Linked DNA regions of Homo sapiens. The protein of the gene in region 1 purifies or fractionates together with the protein of each later gene. This does not show direct contact. Each region holds a gene or a part of one and is shown in the gene's direction. Other genes may lie near its edges.

The links.
Region 2: the proteins of INSL6 (region 1) and RNF123 purify together in Homo sapiens (co-immunoprecipitation; 3 studies listed by BioGRID and IntAct, with this or other methods). This does not show direct contact.
Region 3: the proteins of INSL6 (region 1) and UBAC1 purify together in Homo sapiens (co-immunoprecipitation; 3 studies listed by BioGRID and IntAct, with this or other methods). This does not show direct contact.

What each region holds. Positions count from the first base shown.
Region 1 is NC_000009.12:5,175,035-5,182,853, reverse strand, and holds part of INSL6 (insulin-like peptide INSL6 precursor), read left to right. Parts: intron 1-7,819. UniProt on the Homo sapiens protein: May have a role in sperm development and fertilization.
Region 2 is NC_000003.12:49,699,164-49,706,982, forward strand, and holds part of RNF123 (E3 ubiquitin-protein ligase RNF123), read left to right. Parts: intron 1-304; coding exon 305-419; intron 420-504; coding exon 505-609; intron 610-1,063; coding exon 1,064-1,189; intron 1,190-1,308; coding exon 1,309-1,401; intron 1,402-1,472; coding exon 1,473-1,546; intron 1,547-2,327; coding exon 2,328-2,445; intron 2,446-2,647; coding exon 2,648-2,747; intron 2,748-2,919; coding exon 2,920-2,981; intron 2,982-3,170; coding exon 3,171-3,242; intron 3,243-3,469; coding exon 3,470-3,590; intron 3,591-4,263; coding exon 4,264-4,365; intron 4,366-5,486; coding exon 5,487-5,593; intron 5,594-5,820; coding exon 5,821-6,019; exon of another isoform or gene 6,020-6,023; intron 6,024-6,370; coding exon 6,371-6,516; intron 6,517-6,818; coding exon 6,819-6,902; intron 6,903-7,627; coding exon 7,628-7,735; intron 7,736-7,819. UniProt on the Homo sapiens protein: Catalytic subunit of the KPC complex that acts as E3 ubiquitin-protein ligase. Promotes the ubiquitination and proteasome-mediated degradation of CDKN1B which is the cyclin-dependent kinase inhibitor at the G0-G1 transition of the cell cycle.
Region 3 is NC_000009.12:135,936,948-135,944,766, reverse strand, and holds part of UBAC1 (ubiquitin-associated domain-containing protein 1), read left to right. Parts: intron 1-5,007; coding exon 5,008-5,094; intron 5,095-6,406; coding exon 6,407-6,545; intron 6,546-7,819.

The sequences.
Region 1 (7,819 bases):
AAGACCTACCCCGTAATGTGGCACCATGAAGTTGACATCATATTTCTAAATTACGACTGAGTATTGTGCTTCCGAGATATTAGTGCCAGGTGAAATCATTAATGTTTCAAAATCAGCTTTTCATAATCTGTAACCCCTATTCCAGTTAGATTAATCATATTCCCATATTCTTAGTCTTCATGTCACATATTCTTGTTTTTTTTGTTTCTTTATGTTTCAGATATCATCACAACTAGTCTGTAAAGGGCCCTTCTCTTTATATATTAGTTCAACAAAATTTGAGTACCTATCATGTGTTAGGCACTCTTCTTGGTGATTGGGATGTTAGAGTAAACGGTGAAGGCTCCTACCCTCATGAAGCCTACAGAATAGTAAAGATAGACAATTAACATAAGTAAATTATAATTTACAGAAGGTGATTATCCTCACTTAGCCCCTTTCTCCACTCCCATTCTCCTCCTCTCCTTGGCAATTGTTGTAATGTGTTTATTATATATTTTTTGTTTTTATAAGTTTTTGCAAATTATGCATTCTTTCCTGTTCATATGTTTTAAGATATATCTAAAAGGCATTTAAGATCTATATCTTATTGTTGCTATGTGAACATTTAGTCCATTGCTTCTAACTACTGCATAATACTCATGTGCATTCCTCACATTTTACTGATTTATTCAGTTTTGAACACCTAACCTATGTAGCCTTGAACTCCCTACCACTACAGATAACACTGCCATGAACATCATTGTATGTGTCCCCTTATGAACCTAGAAGTGTTTCTGGGATACACATCTAGAGTGGAATTGCTGTGTCATGAAGTATGTGTATGTTTAATTTGCCTGAGGAGTATCAGATTGCTCTTCAGAGTGACTACACCAATGTATAGTTGCACCACCAATCCTGTGTCCTCATATCTATGTCAACAATTAGCATTATACAGTTATTAACTTTTACCAGTGTAATAGATGTAAAATGACACTATATTTCTATTTTAACTTGCTCTGGGTCTGAACATCTTTTCATATACATGTTAACCTTTTGGATTTTCTCTTAAAATTTCCTGTTTATATATTTTGCCCAATTCTTGTTGGAATTGTTATCATTTTCCAGTTGGTTTATAGGAGTTAATCAAATCTAGATACAGTAACAACTAGTTGTTGGTTTTAGATGTCACAAATATGTTCTCCCATTTTGACATCTGTCTATTGCTGTTGCTTGACAGAAAGCCTTAACTTTTATATAATTAAGCAGTAAGTGTTTTGCCTTATGTATTAGAGGTCCTTTTCTGTCCTTCTGTTAACTTTTCAGTTTTACTTTTCACATTAAGTCCTTAATTATTAGGCTAATTTTTAGTTCTGGTCTCGGTAGGAATATTACCTCACTTTCTCAGTAAGTCTTTTTTTCTCTACATAGGGAGCTAGTTTTCTGAACACTTTCTACTAATCAATTATTTTTCTCACTAATTTGTGGGATAACCATTACTGATAAGTTTGAGCTTTCTATTTTATTTAATTGGTCATTTATTTGGCCTTTTATCGTTACTATTTTTGATACTGTGACTCTATAGGATGTCATTTATCTGGCAGGACAAGTCTTCAATGTTTATTTTTTCCCTTAGGATTGACTAACCTAAATCTTCAACCTTTATTCTTTCATATATATTTAAAAGTATGCTTATTGAATTTCTTTTTTAAAAGTCCACATGGAATTTTATTTGGGATGCGTGGAATATTATCAGGGGAACCCGCCCCCAATATTTCAATGTAGGTTCTATTTTCCATAAGTGTCCGCTGGCTGAGAAATAAAGAGTACAAAGAAAGGAATTTTACAGCTGGGCCGCCGGGGGTGACAGCACATATCAGTAGGACTCTAATGCTGGCCTGAGCCTCAAACCATCAAGTTTTTTGTTAAGAGTTTCAAAAGGGGAGGGGGTGTAAGAACAGGGAGTAGATCACATGCTTCAAAGTGCAAAGAGCAGAACTACTAATAAGGGTCTAACAAAGATGACATGCTTCTGAGGGAACAGGACAAATGGCAAAAGCAGAACTACTGATAAGGGTCCAATAAAGATCACAAGGGAAAGGGCAAAAGCAGAACTACTGATAAAGGTTTATGTTCAGTGGTGCATGTATTGTCTTGATAAACATCTTAAATAACAGAAAACAGGGTTTGAGAGCAGAGAACCAGTCTGACCACAAATTTACCAGGGTGGAGTTTTTCCCCACCCTAGTAAGCCTGAGGGTACTGCAGGAGACCAGGGCGTATATCAGTCCTTATGTCAACGACATAAGACAGACATTCCCGAAGCGGCTGTTTATAGACCTCCCTCCAGTAGTACATTCCTTTCCCAGGGTATTAATACTAATATTCCTTGCTAGGAAAAAGAATTTAGTGATATCTTCCCTACTTGCACATCCGTTTATAGCCTCTCTGCAAGAAGAAAAATATGGCTCTTTTTGCCCAACCCCGCAGGCAGTCAGACCTTACAGTTGTCTTCCCTTGTTCCCTAAAAATTGCTGTTATTCTGTTCTTTTTCAAGGTGCACTGATTTCATATTGTTCAAACACACGTTTTACAATCAATTTGTACAGTTAACACAATTATCACAGTGGTCCTGAGGTGACATACATCCTCAGCTTACGAAGATAACAGGATTAAGAGAGTAAAGACAGGCATAAGAAATTATAAAAGTATTATTTGGGAACTGATAAATGTCCATATTAAAATGAAATCTTCACAATTTATGTTCCTCTGCCATGGCTCCAGCCGGTCCCTCCGTTCAGGGTCCCTGACTTCCCACAACAGAATATATACACTAATTTGAAGAGGATTGACTTCTTTTTTTTGCTTCACCTTCTAAGTTCAGGAGTACATGTGCAGGATGTGCAGGTTTGTTACATAGATAAATGTGTGTCATGGTGGTTTGCTGCACAGATCATCCTATCACCTATGTATTAATCCCAGCATCCATTAGCTATTCCTCCTGATACTTTCCCTTCCCCCAGGGCCCCTGTCAGGCAGGCCCCAGTGTGTGTTTTCCCCTGCATGTGTCCATGTGTTCTCATCGTTCAGTTCACACTTACAAGTGAGAACATGTGGTGTTTGGTTTCTGTTCCTGCATTAGTTTGCTGAGAATGATGGTTTCCAACTCCATCCATGTCCCTGCAAAGGACATGATCTCATTCTTTTTTATAGCTGCATAGTATTCCATGGTGTATGTGTAGCAAGTTTTCTATATCCAGTTTATCATTGGTGGGCATTTAGGTTGATTCCATGTCTTTGCTATTGTGAATAGTGCTGCAATGAACATATGCTTGCATGTATCTTTATAACAGAATGATTTACATTCCTTTGGGTATACACCCAGTAATGGATTGCTGGGTCAAATGGTATTTCTGCCTCTAGGTCTTTGAGAAATCACCACACTGTCTTCCACAATGGTTGAACCCTACCAACAGTGTAAAAGTGTTCCTTTTTCTCCACAACCTTGCCAGCATCTGTTGTTTTTTAGCTTTAATAATAGCCATTCTGACTGGCATGAGATGGTATCTCATTGTAATCTTGATTTGCATTTCTCTAATGATCAGTGATGTTGAGCTATTTTTTGTTTGTTGGCCACATATATGTCTTCTTTTGAGAACTCTCTGTTCATGTCTTTTGCCCACTTTTTAATGGGGTTGTTTTTTTCTTGTAAATTTGTTTAAGTTACTTATAGATGCTGGATATTAGAGCTTTGTCAGATGGATAGATTGCAGAAATTTTCTCCCATTCTGTAGGTTGTCTGTTCACTCTCATGATTTTTTTTTTTTTTTGCTGTGCAGAAGCCCTTTAGTTTAATTAAATCCCGTTTGTCAGTTTTTGATTTTGTTGCAATTGCTTTTGGTGTTTTTGTTTTGAAATATTTGCCTGTGCCTGTGTCTTGAATGCTATTGCCTAGATTTTCTTCTAAGGTTTTTATGGTTTTGGGTTTTACATAAGTCTTTAATCCATCTTGAGTTAATTTTTGTGTAGAGTGTAAGGAAGGGGTCCAGTTTCAATTTTGAGCCTACAGCTAGCCAATTCTTCCAGCACCATTTAATAAATAGAGAATTCTTCCCTCATTGCTTGTTTTTGTCAGGTTTGTCCAAGATCGTATGGTTGTAGGTGTGTGGTGTGTGGTTTTATTTGAGTTCTCTATTCTGTTCCATTGGTCTATGTATCTGTTCTTGTACCAGTACCAAGCTGTTGTGGTTACTGTAGCCTTGTAGTATAGTTTGAAGTTGGGTAGTGTGATGTAGGAAACCACAGAGATGGTGGCTGCCCCTCCCCACAGGAACTTTGTTCCAGAGTGAGATCAGAGCTCTGTCTGTATAACTCTGGCTGGAGTGGCTGAAGCCTCCACATGGAGGTCCTGCCCAGTGAAGAGTAATGGATCAGTGTCCTGCTTAAAGAAGCAGTCTGGCCACAATCTGCCAAAGCAGCTGTACTGCCTTCTGGGGAACCCTTTCTCATGCCAACCAGCAAGCTGGAACAGCTGAGTAAAGGGAACCGTGGAGATGGCGGCAGCCCCTCCTCCCTAGGAGCTCAGTCCTAGGGAGAGATCACAGCTCTGTCCCTGTAACCCTGGCTGGAGTGGCTGAAGCCCCTACAAGGAGGTCTCACCCAGGGAGGAGGAATGGATTGGGGTCCCACTTAAAGCAGCAGTCTGAGCGTGGTGGCTCATGCCTGGAATCCTGGCACTTTGGGAGGCCAAGGCGGGTGGATCACTTGACATCAGGAGTTCAAGACCAGCTTGGGCAACATGGCAAACCCTGTCTCTACTAAAAATACAAAAATTAGCTAGGCATGGTGGCATGTGCCTGTAATCCCAGCTACTTGGGAGGCTGAGGCGGGAGAATCGCTTGAACCTGGGAGGTGGAGGTTACAGTGAGCCAAGATCACGCCACTGTACTCCAGCCTGGGTGACAGAGCGAGACTCCAACTCAAAAAAGAAAAAGAAGAAAAAGAAAGAAGCAGTCTGGCCACAGTCTGGCACAGCAGCTGTGCTGTGTTGTGGGGTACCTTCCTCCTCTGGACTGTTTGGATTCTCCAAAGCTGGGAGGCTGGAACAGCTGAGTTGACCTTTCCCAGAGATGGCGGCTGCCCCTCCTCCCAGGAACTCTGTCCCGTTTCAGGTGGACTCCAGCTTTTGCTTTGGGTGGCTGGAATTCCAAATCAGGTCTTAATTTGTGAGGTGCTGTGGAAGTGGGACGTGCAGAACAACTGCTTGGCTCCCTGGATTCAGCCCCCTTCCTTGGGATATGCACTGTCATATCTTCTGCCTTGCCAGGATCCCAGGGCCAGAATCTGTAAAACTCCTGGGCCTCATTGTGTGCCTGAGCGTTTGCTCTGCTGAGACTCCACACAGCTCTGTGTGTCGAACCCAAGGCCCTAGTGGCATGGGCTCACAATGGGATCTCCTGATCTGCAAAGATCTGGGATCAAAGATGGGATTTCCTGATCTGGGTTTCAGAGATCTCTGGGAGAAATGTGATTTCCCGGGCGGGGTGGCACAATCACTCACCACTTTCCTTGGCTGAGGGTGAGTTTCCTTTGGCTCCCTGCTGTTCCTTGGTAGGCCATTCATTGCTCCACCCTGCATTTCTTCTTTCTCTCTGGATCAAGTTGTTTGCCTAGTCAGTCCCAATGTGAGAACCTGGATATTTCAGTTGAAGGTGCTGAATTCACTCTTTTATTCCTCTCCCTGAGCGCCATGGATCACAGCTGCATCTAATTGGCCATCTTGTGCACCCAACTCCCCCCGACCCCATTGACCTCTTTATTACATAAAGTCATCCTAATCAAAGTCATGAAATTACTTATATTCTATTCTTATGATTTTAAAGTTTTCTTTATGGAAACTTTTACAGTATCATTGGTTAATTTCATGCTTAATACTTTTTTTTCTTTAGCTATTGTAAATACCTGTGAATTATATTTACTAGTTAGTGACTTGGCTAGAGAAATGCAACTTATTTTTATAGGTTGATCTTTATCCAGCAACCATGCTGAACTATCTTCATAGTTCTAATAGTTTGTTGATTCTATAGGTTTTTTATCACTTGAAAATGATAGTTATATCACTTTCTTGCTAAACTTATACCATTTTTTTTTTTTTTGCTTTGATTTCTTGTTTTGTTCCCAGGCTTAAAGGGCACGCATTTAAATATCTCCATTAGGTATGATGTTTGTAGGTTTATGCTATATAATCTTCATTAAGGTAAGGAAGCTTGCTAAGAGATTTTTTTTTAATCATCGTAAATAGGGCTGAACTTTATTAAGGTCTTCTTTTCGCATACTTTTGCTTAGTCTTATGATTTTTTCTTTTATTAAGCAAATACTCATTGGGTACCTACTAAGCATCCAGGCACAATTTTAGAATCTTGGGAATATGTCAGTGGACAAAACAGACAAAGATCAAAGGCTTTATGGAGCTTTATTAAGTAAATATTTGAAAGTAGTAAGAGCTACAGAAAAATGAAAAATGAAACAGGATAAGGGAGATAAACAGAGCAAGGAGTTGAAAGGTGGGGTATAGTATTAAACAGTGTGGTAAGGGTAGACCAATTATTGAAAAGGTGAGATTTAAAAAGAAGTGGTAAGGGAATTATCCAAGTGGATATGTGGAGAAAGGGCATTTATGCAGAGGAAATAGTGGAGCAGAGGCCCTTCTGCCTGATGTATACAGGGAGTAGCAAAGAGTCCAAATGTGGTTGGAGCAGAGAAAATGAGGAAAGTAGTAGAAGATAAGGTAGGAGAGGTAATAGGCAGACATGATAAAATAGGGTATTTTAGGCCAGTAATCCCCAACCTTTTTGGTACCAGGGACCAGTTTCATGGAAGACAATTTTTCCTTGGACCAGGGAGGGGAATGATTTTCAGATGATCCAAGCGCATTACGTTTATTGTGAACTTTATTTCTATTACTATTACATGGTAATGTTTAATGAAATAATTATACAATTTACCATAATGTAGAATCAGTGGGAGCCCTGAGCTTGTTTTCCTGAAACCAGATGGTCCCATCTGGGGGTGATGGGAGACAGTGATAGATAATCAGGCATTAGATTCTCATAAGGAGCGTGCAACCTAGATCCCTGGCATGCGCAGTTCACAATAGGGTTCACACTCCTATAAGAATCTAATGCTGTCCCTGATCTGACAGGAGGTAGAGCTCAGGTGATAATGCGAGCAATGGGGAGCAGCTGTAAATATAGATGAAGCTTTGCTCGCTCGCCTGCCCACTGCTTACCTCCTGCCATGTGGCCTGGTTCCTAACAGGCCATAGACCAGTTAAGTCCCCAGTGGTTGGGGACCCCCTGTTTTAGATCATTTTAAAGACTTTGTTTTGGGGTGATGCAAGGAGTCATTAAGATTTTTGAGCAGAGAAGTGACATAATTGACATTTTAAATGGATCACTCTGGCTACTGTGTTGAGAATAGACTGTAGAAAGGCAAGAGTAGAAACAGAGAGACCTGTTAGGGAGGGTCTTAGATGAGGATGATAGAAGTGAAGATAGTGAAAACTGTTAAATTCTAGTTATACACGGGCCATATTTGATGTGAGATATGAGGAAGAGAAATCAAGAATGACTCCATGGCCAGACGCGGTGGCTCATGCCTGTAATCCCAGCACTTTGGGAGGCCGAGGCAGGTGGATCATGAGGTCAGGAGATCGAGACCATCCTGGCTAACACGTTGAAACCCCATCTCTACTAAAAAACACAAAAAATTTGCTGGGCGTGGTGGTGGGCACCTGTAGTCCCAGCTACTCGGGAGACTGAGGCAGGAGAATGGTGTGAAC
Region 2 (7,819 bases), on another chromosome or scaffold:
AGGGGCTCCCTACCCCAGGGGTGCCATGGGCTGGTGGCAGGCCCTGGCTGCTGCAGAGTTAGTGGGGGGCCATGTAGAGTGTCGAAGAAAACTTTCCTCGCAGCAGCCTGGTTGGTTGGGTGCCCTTGTCTCCACTGAACAGATGAGGAATGTGAAGCATCCTCCCTAGGGAGAATAAGTGGGCAAGTTGTGATGCAAACCAGCCCTGCCCTAGAGCCCAGGCCCCGGGGTGGGGGGTGGGCAGTGGAGAGGGAGTAGGCATGTCTGAGCCACAGATAAGGCGTTGCTGGCTTAACTCTGGCACCTACCCAGTGGCAGGCTACCGGCCCCTGCAGGACCCACCGAGTGCTGACCTGGTGCGGGCACAGAGGTTGCTGGGCTGCTTCCGGGCAGTGCTGAGTGTGGAGCTGGACCCTGTGGTGAGCTGGGGTCTGGGCCAGGCGGGGTGGGGGGCTTCCACAGCCTCCTGCCCCTCACACTTCTCCCTCCTCCCCCTCCACACAGGAGGGGCGGCTGTTGGACAAGGAGAGCTCCAAGTGGCGGTTGCGGGGCCAGCCCACCGTCCTCCTCACACTGGCCCACATCTTCCATCACTTTGCACCGCTTCTGGTGAGCGGCATTGGGAGGGGCATGGGAGGGGAGGAGACAGGCCATGCTAGACACGCCCGTGGTAGATGTGCCCTCACTGAGGGCTGCAGTGCTGAGGTCCCACAGCATCACCTGGCGAGGGCCCCATGTGACCAGGGCCCTCAGACCTCAGTCAGTCCCCTAGGGAAACAGGGACATTGCCAACCAAGGGCATCAGGGGATGTCCTGGAAAGAAGACTGAAGGATAATAACATCCCAGGCCAAGGAAACTGCGTGTGCCAAGCCTTAGAGGAGCCGTGGGGCAATGGCCTTCTTGTCCCTCAGTCAGACCCCGGAAGGGGTCATCTATGTTTGGTGTTGCTCGAGTGGCTCAAGGCTCTGTGCCTGAGGCTTGTGCCTTGGCCATGTGCCAGGGCAGGGGTGCCTTGACCAGAGTGGAAGGCCACCACCTCACCAGTGCCTGGCCTTGGTGCAGCGCAAGGTGTATCTGGTGGAGGCTGTGCTCATGAGCTTCTTGCTGGGCATCGTGGAGAAGGGCACACCCACACAGGCACAGTCCGTGGTGCACCAGGTCCTGGACCTCTTGTGGCTCTTCATGGAGGTGAGGCTCCTGACCTCAGGCCTCAGGCCTGGCTGTCAGTCTTCACTGGGGTCGGGAAGATACGGGGAGAATCTTGGAAAAGGCCCCAGTCATGGCTGCCTTGGCATCTCTTCCCCCAGGACTACGAGGTACAAGATTGCCTCAAGCAGTTGATGATGTCTCTGCTTCGGCTGTACCGATTCTCACCCATTGTCCCAGACCTGGGCCTACAGGTGGGAGCCCCTACCCCTGCCCTGAGCCCCCTGGGACTCGCCTGTCCACTCTGAACGCCCCCTCTCCACAGATCCATTACCTGCGGCTCACTATCGCCATCCTGAGGCATGAGAAGTCCCGCAAGTTTCTGCTTAGCAATGTCCTGTATCCTTTCCTTGCTGCCTGGCAGGCCAGACATGGGGTGCCCTCTGGACTCAGCAGAGGCCAGGAAGGGGAGTGTCATCAGGCCAGGGGTCCCCTGGGAGCATCAGGAGGACCAGAGCTGCCCAACGTGGCATTTTCTCTACAGAGCAAGGACGAGAGAGCAAAGGACTGAGCCTGGCCAGCCAGCCTAGCCAGGGGGTTCTGAATGACTGCAGACTCGGGCTACGCAGAGGTGTGGGAGGGGCCACAGGGCCTGCCCTCTTCGGCCACAGCCCAGCACTTTTGTTCATGTTCCACAGTGGGGATTCCTGCAAGATCTTTAAGGAGGCAGCTCTTCCTGCTTCCCAGAATTGTTGGGAACTGCATGAGTGAGTGAGAGCATAGCTTTGAGCCCCTGGCTGGGAAGCCTCAGCTTGTAGCCGTTTTCTTGGTCTGGGGTCTTCCAGCCTCCAGGAGGCAGACACAAAGCTGGGAGACACAGAGGTCAGAGTTGGGGCCTGAGAAAAGGCCACCAGTCCCTCTCTCCAGCTTGTCCCACAGTCATCTGTTCCTGTGACAAGCCCTTATCGTGCACCTGCTGGGTACTGGAGCTGGTGGGCTTAACCACCACAGCTTTTTGTCAGGGAGCATGCCCTGGGGGTCAGACACATAGCAGCAACATGCCCCTGTGGTGGTGGGAGAGCTGTGGTAGGCACATCCAGGGATGGGCTCCTGGGGAAGGACTCTTGAGGGTGTGCAGAGTGCCCTTTGGCAAGCAGAGCCCTGCCTTGACACCCGCCAGCTTCGACGTGCTCCGCTCCGTCGTCTTCTTTTACATCAAGAGCCCCCTGCGTGTGGAGGAGGCCGGCCTGCAGGAGCTCATTCCCACCACCTGGTGGCCCCACTGCTCCAGTAGGGAGGTGAGTGCACCCCAAGTGGGATGGGCAGAGGTCATGGCAAGGCCCCTGGCCTGGGCATCTGGCCACTGGGCATCTAGCATGAGGCCTTTTCACTGGCCCTGGTCCCTGAAGCCCTGGAGATGGAGTGTGGGTGTTCTGAGTGAAGGAGGCCTGGCTAGGTCCCAGGTGACCCTGCTGTATTCCACCTGCTACCCCTGCCTAGGGCAAAGAGAGCACGGAGATGAAGGAGGAGACCGCAGAGGAGCGGCTGCGGCGGCGAGCCTACGAACGGGGCTGTCAGCGGCTCAGGAAGCGCATCGAAGGTCAGCCCGCCTTGGGCACGGGGTAGGGTGGGAGGTGTGTGTGTGCACATGAGGGTGCTTGGAGGTGCCCATGTCTAGGTGGGACTTGGGGAACCCTGGTGGTGGAGCCCTGGCCCAAACCTGCCCCCCATCTCCTGGAGCCTGAGGGCCATGTTCCTCACCTGACCTCCAGTGGTGGAAGAACTACAGGTCCAGATCCTGAAGCTGCTGCTGGACAATAAAGATGACAATGGGGTGAGTGACTCCCAGGAGCCCTGGGTGGGGCCCTGTGGGGAGGGATGCTGCACTGGGCCTTAAGACCCAGAGGGTGGGAACTGGGTTTGGTTCCCATGGCAGGGGCTGGGGGAAGGTGCAGCACTGAGCCAGCCCAGTCTGGGCCTGCATTCTCAGCTCAGCACAGCCTCACTTTTCCCTCTCTCAAAGGGTGAAGCTTCTAGGTATATCTTCCTGACCAAGTTTCGCAAGTTTCTGCAGGAGAACGCCAGTGGCCGGGGGGTAGGTGTCCTCCAGGCCAGCCCACTGTGGATCCCCGGCTGCACTACACATGCCATGCCCTCAGCACCTGGCACTTCTCGGACTGCCTCATCCCTGCCTAGCCCCAAGCTTTTCTCTGCTGCTTTTCCCTCCCTGCTTAACCCTCGACCCTCAGGCAGGGCCTTGGATGAGGAATGGGCAAGGCACTGGACTGGCACCAATGCATGTTTCATGCCTGGTGTCCACAGAACATGCCCATGCTCTGCCCCCCTGAGTACATGGTCTGCTTCTTACACCGGCTGATCTCTGCCCTGCGCTACTATTGGGATGAATACAAGGCTTCCAATCCTCATGCTTCCTTCAGTGAGGGTGAGTGGCACCGGGGTCCCAGGTCAGTGAGGCTGGACAGAGCCAGGCGTAGGGCAGCCCCTAATGTTAGTGCAGAGTGCTGAGCTGAGGCTGTGGGCTGTGGGGAGTTGTCCCCGGCATCCTGCCTGGTTGAGTCCTACCCAGCCACAGGCGGCTTCTCCACTGGGGCAGCAGGAGCCCTGCACCGCAGGCCTGCCGATCCTGTGTTTGCTCTGATTGTCCCACGGGCTCCTACCATTGTGGGCTCTTTTCTTCCGTCCTTGCCCCCCCATTTCTCTGTGCGTCCTTTATAGGGCTGCCTTGGGTGGGTGCTGGGGGGCCCTGTGTTTGAGTCCCCAAGGGTCAGTGGGAGCCTTACCTGCCCTGGATTGGGGGATATCCCACAGGACTGGGGCTGGGCCTCTCTGCTTCTCCTGAGTGAACGGCTGCCATGAGTACCCCCATCACCCCAAGTTATGCAGCTGCTGGCTCTGACCTGAAATGGCAGGGGTGGAGAAGAGGTAGGGGAGGTCTGTTTCTTGGTCCAGGAGACAGTTTCTCTGTCTGCCTGGATGGGTGAGTGGCCAAAGCCAGAATTCCCAGGCTGTGCTAGGCCAGATTGGAGGGGAGGGCTGTGGGGAGGGTCTTCCTACTGGGCCGTGACCACTGGCCTAGCCTCCTCAATTCCTCGCAGAGGCCTACATCCCGCCCCAGGTCTTCTATAATGGCAAGGTGGACTACTTTGACCTGCAGCGCCTGGGGGGCCTCCTCTCGCACCTGCGGAAGACCCTCAAAGGTGTGTACAGGCCTGTGGGCCGGGAGCAGTTCTGGGGCCAGGTGGGGGACTGTCCCTGAGCCTGCTCTGCTGTGGATGCTGAGCCATCCTATGGCCACCAGAGGGTGCCCAAGTCTTTCCACCCACTCAGGCAGGGAGACACTGATCTGCCTGCCCTACATCTGGGCAGCTTCTCTTTCCCGCCAGCACCCACGCCATAGGGGTCGGGCGTGCCTGGCAGGGGACCAGGGATCTTGGTGAGGTGTGGATGGGGCGTGCAGGTGCTGCCGGAGCTGCCTTCAGGGATGAGCACAAGCTGCCCCGGTGCAGGGCTGAGGGCACAGCGAGAGCAAGGCCCTGAGCCGGGCACAAGGGTGGGTCTGTGCTGTCAGAACCTCTCTCTGGCTGCCGCAGTGTATACGCCGGAGTGCAGGGGCTGAGAGACAGGGAGCCCAGGTGTCCCCACACAGGAGATAAGGGCCTGCCCAGGTAGGTAGGGGAGGGCACAGGTGGAGGAGAGGAGTCAGGATGACCCCAGGCTTCCTGCCAGAGGTTGTGTGGATGGGGTGCCATCAGGGAGAGGGGCTGCAGGAGGTGGTGGAGATGAGAAATTCTGTTTGGACACAGCGCGTTTAGCGGGGAGCAAGGCCTGGGCGGGGGGCAGCGAAGGCGGGGTCAGTTGTCAGCACGGTGGTGGGGATGAGCCTGGGATGAGGCTTGGCTCCCACTGGGAGTGCCCAGAATGAAGCAGCCCTGGCATCTCCTTTTGTTTATGGAGTAGTCAGAGAGTGGGGGAGGCCCTGGAGAGCAGGAAGTCCTGGGAAACAAAGCCAGGGACCAGCAGGAAGGGCATGATGGGCTTACATCTATGTAGAATAAAGAAAGTCAATTTGAAAATAAATGAAAAAGAAGGGTGTGATGGGGAAGGCCTCCTGTTACTGAGTGGCAGCTAGACGGGGCCCTTGAGATGCAGAGTGAAGGCTGGGTGGAGGAGGCGGAGGGGCGAGGGGCAGATACGGTGCTAAACCGGGCTCTGCAAGGCCTCCTGCCCAGTGTGCTGGGCTCTCTCACCGTCCTGGGCACTTCCACTGTGGCCCCTTGCGCCACCACTGGCCTGAGAACCCTCCTGCTCTTCCTCCCAGATGACCTTGCTTCCAAAGCCAACATTGTGATCGACCCACTGGAGCTCCAGTCAACCGCCATGGATGACCTAGATGAGGATGAGGAGCCAGCCCCAGCTATGGCCCAGGTGCCGCAGTGGGGGCAGGCGGTGGGATTTGTGTTGGGCTTATCCTGTATCTTATGGGCAGGGGTCTCATCCAGGGCCACTTCCCGCTCCATGCAGGCAAAGGGTTTCTCACTGGGCTGGTGCCTTGCTGTGGGTGGAGGCATGGACCCTCCCTCACAATTCTGCAGCCCCGTGGGCCAAGGGAACCCTGAGCCAGCCCTGGTCCTGGCCGCCTTTCTTCACTGCAGCGCCCCATGCAGGCCCTGGCTGTTGGGGGGCCACTGCCCCTGCCCCGGCCCGGCTGGCTCAGTTCTCCAACTTTGGGCCGAGCCAACCGCTTCCTCAGCACAGCGGCTGTGAGCCTCATGACCCCACGGCGGCCTCTGAGCACCTCGGAGAAAGTGAAGGTCCGCACGCTGAGCGTGGAGCAGAGGACCCGTGAGGACAGTAGGTGCTTGGTGGGGTCAGGCAGGTCCCCGAAGGACCCTTCCACAGTGTACAGTCCCCGATCCGGGCAAAGCCAAAATACACCCCATGCCCTCCCAGCCCTGTGGCCTGGCAGCATCCCAGGAGTGCAGGAAGCACACTCCGAGGGCAGGAGATCAATGCCGCAGAAATAGGTCCTGGCACCGCAGGCCTTGCCCTGCACTCCACCCCTACCCCCATGCCCCCATGGGCTCCCCGCGGGTCCCTCCTTGGGCACAGGAATGGGAGAGATGATTTCCTCTCCTGCTGTGAGGCAGGCTCAGGAGAGCCGGGATGGCCCTACCCTTGACCCTTCCCTCCCCAACTCCCCAGTTGAAGGCAGCCACTGGAATGAGGGCTTGCTGCTGGGGCGGCCCCCCGAGGAGCCTGAGCAGCCCCTCACCGAGAACTCGCTGCTGGAAGTCCTGGATGGGGCGGTCATGATGTACAACCTCAGCGTACACCAGCAGCTGGGCAAGGTCGTGCACTCTTGGACCCCGCATTGGGTGGCGGGTGTTGTGCGTGTTTGGTTGTGTGTGTATTCCTGTGTGCACATGGGCCCGCAGGGCTGCCTGTTCAAGACCGTGCATGGGAGCACATGCCTCAGCGAGGCTGGTTTCTGCTCCTGCTGCCTCAGTCTGACCTGCTGACTGTTGTGGGAATGGGACCGCCCTGGGCCTAAGGTTGGGACCTTGGCAGGGCTGGGGTCCAGACTGGGTCTGAAGAAGCCTGGATGAAGTGCCCAAGGGGCACTCTGGACATGTGGTCCCATGCTGTGTAGATGGTGGGTGTCTCCGATGATGTCAATGAATACGCTATGGCTCTGAGGGACACAGAGGACAAGCTCCGCCGGTGCCCCAAGAGGGTAAGGCCCACATAGTCTTGGTGAGGGGCAGCTTGCTTACTCGTACAGGTAACCACAGATGAAGTCTGGTTCTGGGGGCTGCCCTGGCAGTTCTCATCCCCACTCTAGCCCTGGCCATAGCACGCCAGTGAGAGTGGGGCTGGCAGCAAGGCCTGGCACCCATCACCAGTGTGGCCTGTGCCTAGGTGCCCCCCACCCCCTGGGCCCAATAAGTGCTGAAGCACACCCACTCTCCTCATCAATTATTCATTGACCCTGAGTGCTTCCTCGGCCACTTGCAGAGTCAGCAGGAAGCAGGGCCTGGCTCCACTGCACCCTCCGGAGCCCTCTGCTGTAGCTGCCCTAGCCCAGGAAGGTGGGGCCCAGTGTGTCCAGGCTGAGCTTCCCTGACAGCCCCCACCCACCCCGACCTGTCAGCAGATCCCTGGGTCTGGCAGCTGGGGGAGCAGCGGTTCTGGCATCAGGTCCCTGGGTGCTCTGGCCAGCGGCTCACAGACCCCCAGCTGGGCCTCACTTCCATGTCATGAGGGGACCACCATGGCCTTGTTCTGAGGCTGGCTCAGGGTCACCAGAGGGTCAGTGGCAGAAGAAGGTTTTGAAAAATGGAGCCCAATCCCTTGCCTGCTCCAGGCACTAGAGGGCCCTTCCTAGGCTGCCTGCAGGATCAGGGTGGACCTGGGTATGGGGCCATGTCTTGATTGTCCTCCTTTCCCCTTGGGTGGCAGAGGAAGGACATCCTTGCAGAGTTGACCAAGAGCCAGAAGGTTTTCTCAGAAAAGCTGGACCACCTGAGCCGCCGTCTTGCCTGGGTCCATGCCACTGTCTACTCCCAGGTGTGCTGGTATTGCAGCTGCCCCTTCCCGACCTCACTGTCTGGCCACGGGTCTAGCAAGATTGTGCCAGGGCCCTTGATGCCC
Region 3 (7,819 bases), about 130 Mb from region 1:
TGTGTTGCCACATTCGTCACCTTTTGAAAAACTTGATATTTTACAGTTCCTTCTGACCACTCATCCACAAGCCCCCCCTGTTCGGCAGCCTCTCTGCGGGGTGGGGGCCCTGCCCAGAGACCGGGAGGGTCATTTGCCGTCGGGGGTGTCCATGAGCGAGGGGCCGCTCAGGCTGCCAGCCGCCTCCATGGCACAGTCTGCAGGGCTGAAGGGTCCCTGCGCCTGTGTGTGTGGACCTTCCTCGCCCGCGCCTCATCTCCCCATTCTTCCTTCTCTCTCCTGTTCTTTGATTCGGGTTTTACTTCCTCCTTGGAGGTTTCTGTCTGTCTCCGACATGCTCAGATGGCAGATCTGCTCCATCTGCATGCTGTCGTCTCGTGTGGCACTGATCGTTTCCTTGGGGTGTGTGACATTGTGCTGTGGCCTCACCTGCGGAGCTCGTGTTTTCCATGGAGTTCCATGTGGCCAGGCTGTAGACATCCACCTGGGGTGATTCTGAGTTTGCTTCTGCTGGTGATGAGTGGGGCCCCTGCCCCACCATGTCCCGCAGTGTAACCCCCGGCTTCGCAGCTCAGGTCTTCCCTGCACAGGGTTCCGTGGAGACAAATGCTTTTCTTTGTTTCTTTTAAAATTTAATTTAATGTTAAGTTCTGGGATACATATGCAGGATGTGCAGGTTTGTTACATAGGTAAACATGTGCCATGGTGGTTTGCTGCACGTGTCAGCCCATCACCTAGGTATGAAGCCCAGCATGCACTAGCTATTTTTCATGATGCTCTCCCTCCCCCAGACCCCCTGATGGGCCCCGGTGTGTGATGTTCCCCTCACTGTGTCCATGTGTTCTCATTTTTCAGCTCCCACTTATAAGTGAGAACATGAGGGGCTTGGTTTTTTGTTCCTGTGTTAGTTTGCTGAGGACAGTGGCTTCCAGCTTCATCCATGACCCTGCAAAGGACGTGATCTCGTTCCTTTTTATGGCTGCATAGTATTCCATGGTGTATATATCCCACATTTTCTTTATTCAGTCTATCCGGTTTCTTTTCTTATCCGTGGGCATTTGAGTTGATTCTATGTCTTTGCTATTGTGAGTAGTGCTGCAGTGAACATACGTGTGCACATATCTTTATAACAGAATGATTTCTATTCCTTTGGGTATATACCCAGTAATGGAATTGCAGGGACAAATGGTATTTCTGTTTCTAGGTCTTTGAGGAATCACCACATGTCTTCCACAGTGGTTGAACTAATTTACATTCCCACCAGCAATGTAAAAGCGTTCCTATTTCTCCACAGCCTCACCAGCAGCTGTTGTTTCTTGACTTTTTAATAATCATCATTCTGATTGGCATGAGATGGTATCTCATTGTGGTTTTGATTTGCATTTCTCTAATGATCAGTGATGTTGAGCCTTGCTCTGTCGCCCAGGCTGGATTCTTCCTGCCTCAGCCTCCTGAGTAGCTGGGACTACAGGCACACACCCACCACGCCCAGCTAATTTTTGTACTTTTAGTGGAGACAGGGTTTCACCATGTTGGCCAGGCTCGTCTCAAACTCCTGACCTCAAGCGATCTGCCCGCCTCGGCCTCCCAAAGTGCTGGGATTACAGGTGTGAGACACTGCGCCCGGCCAACTGTCTTCTTTTGAGAAGAGTCTGATCATGTCCTTTGCCCACTTTTTAATGGGGTTGTTTTTTTCTTGTAAATTTGTTTATTCCATGTAGATTCTGGATATTAGACCTTTGTCAGGTGAATAGATTGCAAAAACGTTCCCTTCTGTAGGTTGTCTGTTCACTCTGAGGGTAGTTTCTTTTGCTGTGCAGAAGCTCTTTAGTTAGATCCCATTGAGACAAATGCTTTTCTAGTCTATTTTCTCATCTTTTCAGGGTCCTGTTTTAAGTAAGGGTCTCAGTTCCCACTCCCTACCTCCCATGGGCCCAAGGCGCACGTTCTGTCTGTGTGTAGACATCAGACCCCGCCCTCCCAGGGCAGCCCCTGCGCACACCCTCTCCCAGGGCTAGCTTTCTGTCTCTTCCTTCTTGGGTTTCTCACTTGTGGATATCCCTTTCTTGTGAGGTTAGCTCTGCATGTAAAAGTTTCTCTTTTTTTTTTTTTTTTTGAGACAGTTTCACTCTGTCACCCAGGCTGGAGTGGCGGTGGCACAATCATGGCTCACTGCAGCCTTGACCTCCTGGGCTCAAATGATGCTACTTCAGCCTCCTGAGTAGCTCTTACAGGCACGCACCACCACACAGGGCTAATTTTTTATTTTTTAAAATTTTGTACAGATAGGGATCTCCCTGTGTTGCCCAGGCTGGTGTTGAACTCCTGGCCTCAAGTGATCCTCCTGCCTTGGCCTCCCAAAGCGCTGGAATTACAGGCATGAGCCATTGTGCCTAACCTAAAAGCATTTTTGTTTTATTTTCATCTAGCATTTCTAGGTTTAGCAGGAAGTTTGTCTCGTTGTGCTTGTCTCCTAGGGAGCCAAGTTTACATCTGATCCTGGAAGCCTGTCCAAGTGGAGCAGTCACTCTCCAGCTGGGTCCCTTGTGCTCTGAGGTTGGACTTCGCACTCTCGTGTGTTGTGGTCCTGCACGGTCTCTTGGAGGTTGTTAGTCATATACTTTCTTGCCATCTTAAGCCTTTTTGTTAAATATGGATGCTCATTCTTAACAATCTTAACGTGCTCGTTTTCCTAAGATCTTCCCCATTGCCATTCCCTCCCGTCATCTCTCTGTGTCAGAACAACATTCCGTAGAATGTCTTCTTTGATGAAAATCATCACAAGGTGGTCAAGGCTTGAGGGGCCAGCCCATCAGTCCTCCTAGCCTTTGGTTTCTGTACAAGTCATGAGATCAGGCAGTCGTCCAGTAGGGATCGAGATACTAGCTTTGTTACTGAGAAAGGATTGGAGAGCTCTGACTTGAGGCCAAAACAGATTTCCTGCTGCCCCTCCCTTCCCAGTGGTAGACAGGATGCCTGCTGTCCGGGGGCAGAGCTGGCAGGGCCCGACGTCCTGCAGCCCGTGAGCGCAAGGCCCCTCTCCCATTGCCCACAAGCAAGTCTTTGCCCCCATGGGCTGGGAGGGAGGGCAGGGACTGCCAGGTGTTGCCTTGGGAGTACTGGGGCATCATTTCCTGGGCTGAGGTAGAAATGAGCGACAGTACTTCCTATTGAAGCTAGTGAGGAGGGCATCCTGTCCTTGAATTCAGTAGATTCCAGGCTATTCTGTATGACTTTGATATCAAAATATTGTGCGGTGGGTTCTTCCAGAGTTCATTGTTGGAGCTCCTGGATTAGGGTGTGGCTCAGGAAGGCAATTGTGATGGACCATAAATAGAAAATACAGAGTTTTTTCTTTTTTGAGATGGAGTCTCACTGTGTCGCCCAGGCTGGAGTACAGTGGTGCGATCTTGGCTCACTGCAACCTCCACTTCCCAGGTTCAAGCGATTCTCCTGCCTCAGGCTCCCGAGTAGCTGGGATTACAGGTGCCCGCCACCACGCCCAGCTACTTTTTGTATTTTTAGTAGAGATGGGGTTTTCCCATGTTGGCCAGGCTGGTCTCAAACTCCTGACCTCAAGTGATCCTCCCACCCCGGCCTCCCAAAGTGCTGGGATTACAGGCGTGAGCCACTGCTCCCGGCTGGGACTTTTGACCTGATCATGCACACAGTTTAGCTCTAGCCAGCATCCTTCCTGAGCTCCACCCCAGCTGAAGTCTTTTTCTGCCAGGTTCTCTTGGAAGCATCTGATGGTGCAGTCCAGACTGGCTGTGGACGTGCACCGTCCGCGGGGTGCAGTGCTGCATGAAGTCAGCCTGGGTGGTGCTGGGAGCTGTGTGGGGCTGGCACCCCTAGACCACCTTATGGTGGCCGGAAAACTGCCAAAGATGGAGAGGACTCTGGGGGCTTCAAGAGAGTGGGATCTGACCTTTCAGGGATTAGGAGAGGCCCTTGAAATTTTGATGAAGCCTTCATCTTACTTATTTATATTTTTTCAAAATGGACCCCTTTAAACATTGTGGTATAAATCTCCAGAGTAGAGGATGTATTATCTTGTTACATGAATTGTGTCCAGAAAATGTATGTCCTTCCCCAAAAACGAATTAGCATATGTTCAGTTGTAGCTTAAGTTTTGTTCAATATTAAAAGTTAAAAAATTAGTTTTAGGATTTTTTTTTTTTTTTTTTGAGATGGAGTCTCGCTCTGTCGCCCAGGCTGCAGTGCAGTGGCGCGATCTTGGCTCACTGCAAGCTCCGCCTTCCAGGTTCATGCCATTCTCCTGCCTCAGCCTCCCGAGTAGCTGGGACTACAGGCGCCTGCCACCACGCCCAGCTAATTTTTTTGTATTTTTAGTAGAGACGGGGTTTCACCGTGTTAGCCAAGATGGTCTTGATCTCCTGACCTGGTGATCCGCCTGCCTCGGCCTCCCAAAGTGCTGGGATTACAGGTGTGAGCCACCGCGCCCGGCCCTAGGATTTTTTTTTTTCTAAGATAAAATCTGAATAAAACCTTTTTTCACAGGTTACAATGGCATTTTTGTTTCCGTTGAGATTGCACTTACTGACGTGGCCTTTCCCTAATGCCACTTCTCTTTGGGTAACAAGGCCCTCTGGGGTAAACCTGCGGTGGCTGCCGAGACAGTCTTATCCACACAGTCATCGGGACAAACCTGAAAGGGTCTGAAGTTGGCCTGACTGCCTCGTGTCCACATAAGCGATGCGTTTCTACCTGTCACAACCTGTGGCTCCCTGAAGACAAGCCTGGGAGCTGCACTGCCCCCCGGCTCTGCTAACTACAGTCATCCCTGCACTTCCTCGGCTTTAGGATGCTGAAAACCAAGATCTGTTTTAGCAGAGCTGTGAGGAAAGAACGTGGACGGACAGCGTCCTCAGTGCTGTTGGGAGCACCCTCCGCTAGGGTGCGGGGAGCGGGCCCCTCTGCACGCAGGTCACTGGTTCCTCGGCCTCCTGCCGCCCCCAGCGAGCTAACGGCTGTGCTGTCCTCTAGGCCGTCATTTCCCTGATGGAGATGGGGTTCGACGAGAAAGAGGTGATAGATGCCCTCAGAGTGAACAACAACCAGCAGAATGCCGCGGTGAGTGTTGGGCTGTGGTGAGTGAGTGTGGGCTGTGGTGAGTGAGTGTGGGCTGTGGTAAGTGTGGGCTGTGGTGAGTGAGTGTGGGCTGTGGTGAGTGAGTGTGGGCTGTGGTGAGTGTGGGCTGTGGTGAGTGAGTGGGGGCTGTGATGAGTGAGTGTGGGCTGAGTGAGTGTGGGCTGTGGTGAGTGAGTGTGGGCTGTGAGTGTGGGCTGTGGTGAGTGAGTGTGTCAGGCTGGGCGAGTGCTGGGAGCCTCACTCGTGAGCGCCCCGGGCGTGGTGGAGGCCGTGTGTTTGCCTACTTTCACATGCAGCCGGCTATGTGGCTTTTAAAGTGAGACAATTGGATAGATGGCTCAAACAGTATAAAAATTTAAAAATACGGAATTCTAGGTTTTTAAAAGGGTGCCTTATATGTACATATTTTATGGATGGGTAATTTGTTCATTTTTTTTTTTTTTTAATTTTTTTGGAGTCAGGGTCTCACTCTGTCCCCCAGGCTGGAGTGCAGCGGTGTGATCACACTCACTGCAGCCTCGACCTCCTGGGCCCAAGCGATCCTCCTGCCTCAGCCTCCTGAGTAGCTGGGACCACAGGCATGCACCACTATGCCCGGCTAATTAGTTTTTTAGAGACAAGATCTCCCTTTGTTGCCCAGGCTGATCTTGAACTCCTGGCTTCAATCGATCCTCCTGCTTTGGCTTCCAAAGTGCTGGGATTACATGCATGAGCCACCACTCCCAGCCCATTTTTCTGATTAAACTGACTCAAGAATGATTCCCGTCCTGTGCCCGTGTGCCAGCTGGGCTGATGGAGCTGTGCCTGGGGAGGTCCCTGTGGTGGCCCACATCCCCCCCCCACCATCCCCCGTGCCAGTGGAGTTCGTGGCTCACACCTCCAAGACAGAGATGAGGAGCCTGTGTCCTCATGGCTCCAGCACTGCTGACTGCCCATAACAGGACCACAGGCAAGCTGGGCACTTGGTACATTTGTTAATCACCTTCCCAACACTCCTGGGTGGGCCACACTGGCCCAGGTAAGTGGGGAAGCGGCAGCAGTCAGTGATCCCTGCGACACCAGGGTCTGCAGAGAAAAGCGGACTAGCTCTTCCTTCTCTGGCCTGGTCTGACACGCACGGCAGTGAATCCAGACTGCGTTTGTCTTCACGGTAGAGTCCCTTCCAGGGAGATCAGCCCTGGGGGCTCAACAGGAACTCACAGAAAGGTGCAGGAGCTGTCATGCCTGCTGCTGGTGGCGTCTTGCGGAGGCACTGAAGGCGCTAACAGTGGTATTGGTGCTCTTGGCTTTGCAGTGCGAGTGGCTGCTGGGGGACCGGAAGCCCTCTCCGGAGGAGCTGGACAAGGGCATCGACCCCGACAGTCCTCTCTTTCAGGCCATCCTGGATAACCCGGTGGTGCAGCTGGGCCTGACCAACCCGAAAACATTGCTAGGTATGTGCGCCTTCTTTATGCTAAGTCTCGGGTCGGGGAGGCTGGCTGGTTCCCTTGCAGGACAAATAGGTGCTGCGGAGGCGATACGGAGGATCCAGCGCTGAGGATCGCCGTGCGCTGGCAGCACGTCCTGCCATGCAGGTTGGCATCCTGCGGGTGTAGTCCCGCTACGTCACTGTGGGGCCCGCAGGTCAGGTTCTGATCGTGGTGTGACTGTCTCCTGCGCGATGACCCTGACATAGGCCTCAGAAAACCAGTGCCAGTGGCTTTCCGAGGGCCAGCGGGGTGGAGACTGCGCCAGCAGCTTAGGAACTCACGGGAGGACAAGGTGTGGTTTGGGCTTTTGCTCTTACTACTCGTCAGGGTCTTCGATGGCAATGGTTTATTTTTATTGTGAGATACGTACATACAAAAGTGTATATGATGATGTAACTTTAAAGAAGAATAAAACTAATAGCCATGTATCTACTATTCAGCTTTGGGCCTGGGGTGCCCCTCCCCTATGCACCTCATCCCTCCCTCCGGTGTGGCCGTCGCCGTGGCCGCGGCTTACCTCTCTGCTTCCCGGTAGAGTTTTGCCGTATTTGTGTCTCCTTAAACAATCTCTCATTTGCTGCTGCCTTTGTGTAAGTAGAATCATGTTTTAAGCAGGCCTCTGTGACTGACTGCGTTCTTTGTGGGGGTTGTGGAGTATTTTCTTGATGGAAGGCACTGGGAACCCAGGGCTCGTTGGGTTGTCTACATGTGGTGCCACTCCTGATTTTTTTTTTTTTTTTTTTTTGAGACAGAGTCTCGCCTTGTCACCCAGGCTGGAGTGCAATGGCATGATCTCGGCCCACTGCAACCTCCGCCTCCCAGGTTCAAGCAATTCTCCTGCCTCAGCCTCCTGAGTACCTGGGATTACAGGCGTGCACTACCACGCCTGGCTAATTTTTCGTATTTTAGTAGAGACGGCTTTCACCATGTTTGCCAGGCTGGTCTCGAACTCCTGACCTCGTGATCCACCTGCCTCAGCCTCCCTAAGTGCTGGGATTACAGACCTGTTGGTCCCCAGGAGCTGAGTTCCTGGATGTTGGGAGGGCCTTTGCCACCCGAGCAGGCTGGAAGTGTCTCTGGAGCTGCGATGGCCGTGCCCTGATCTTGAAGGCTGGCCTTCTTTCAGAAGCGTATTGGCCGCCTGTAGAACCTTGGCTGTGAGAGACCTTCCGCTCAGCGTTTGGCCTGCTTTTCTCTTGGATTGTTTTCTTATTCATTCAGAAAGGTCCTCACCTCCT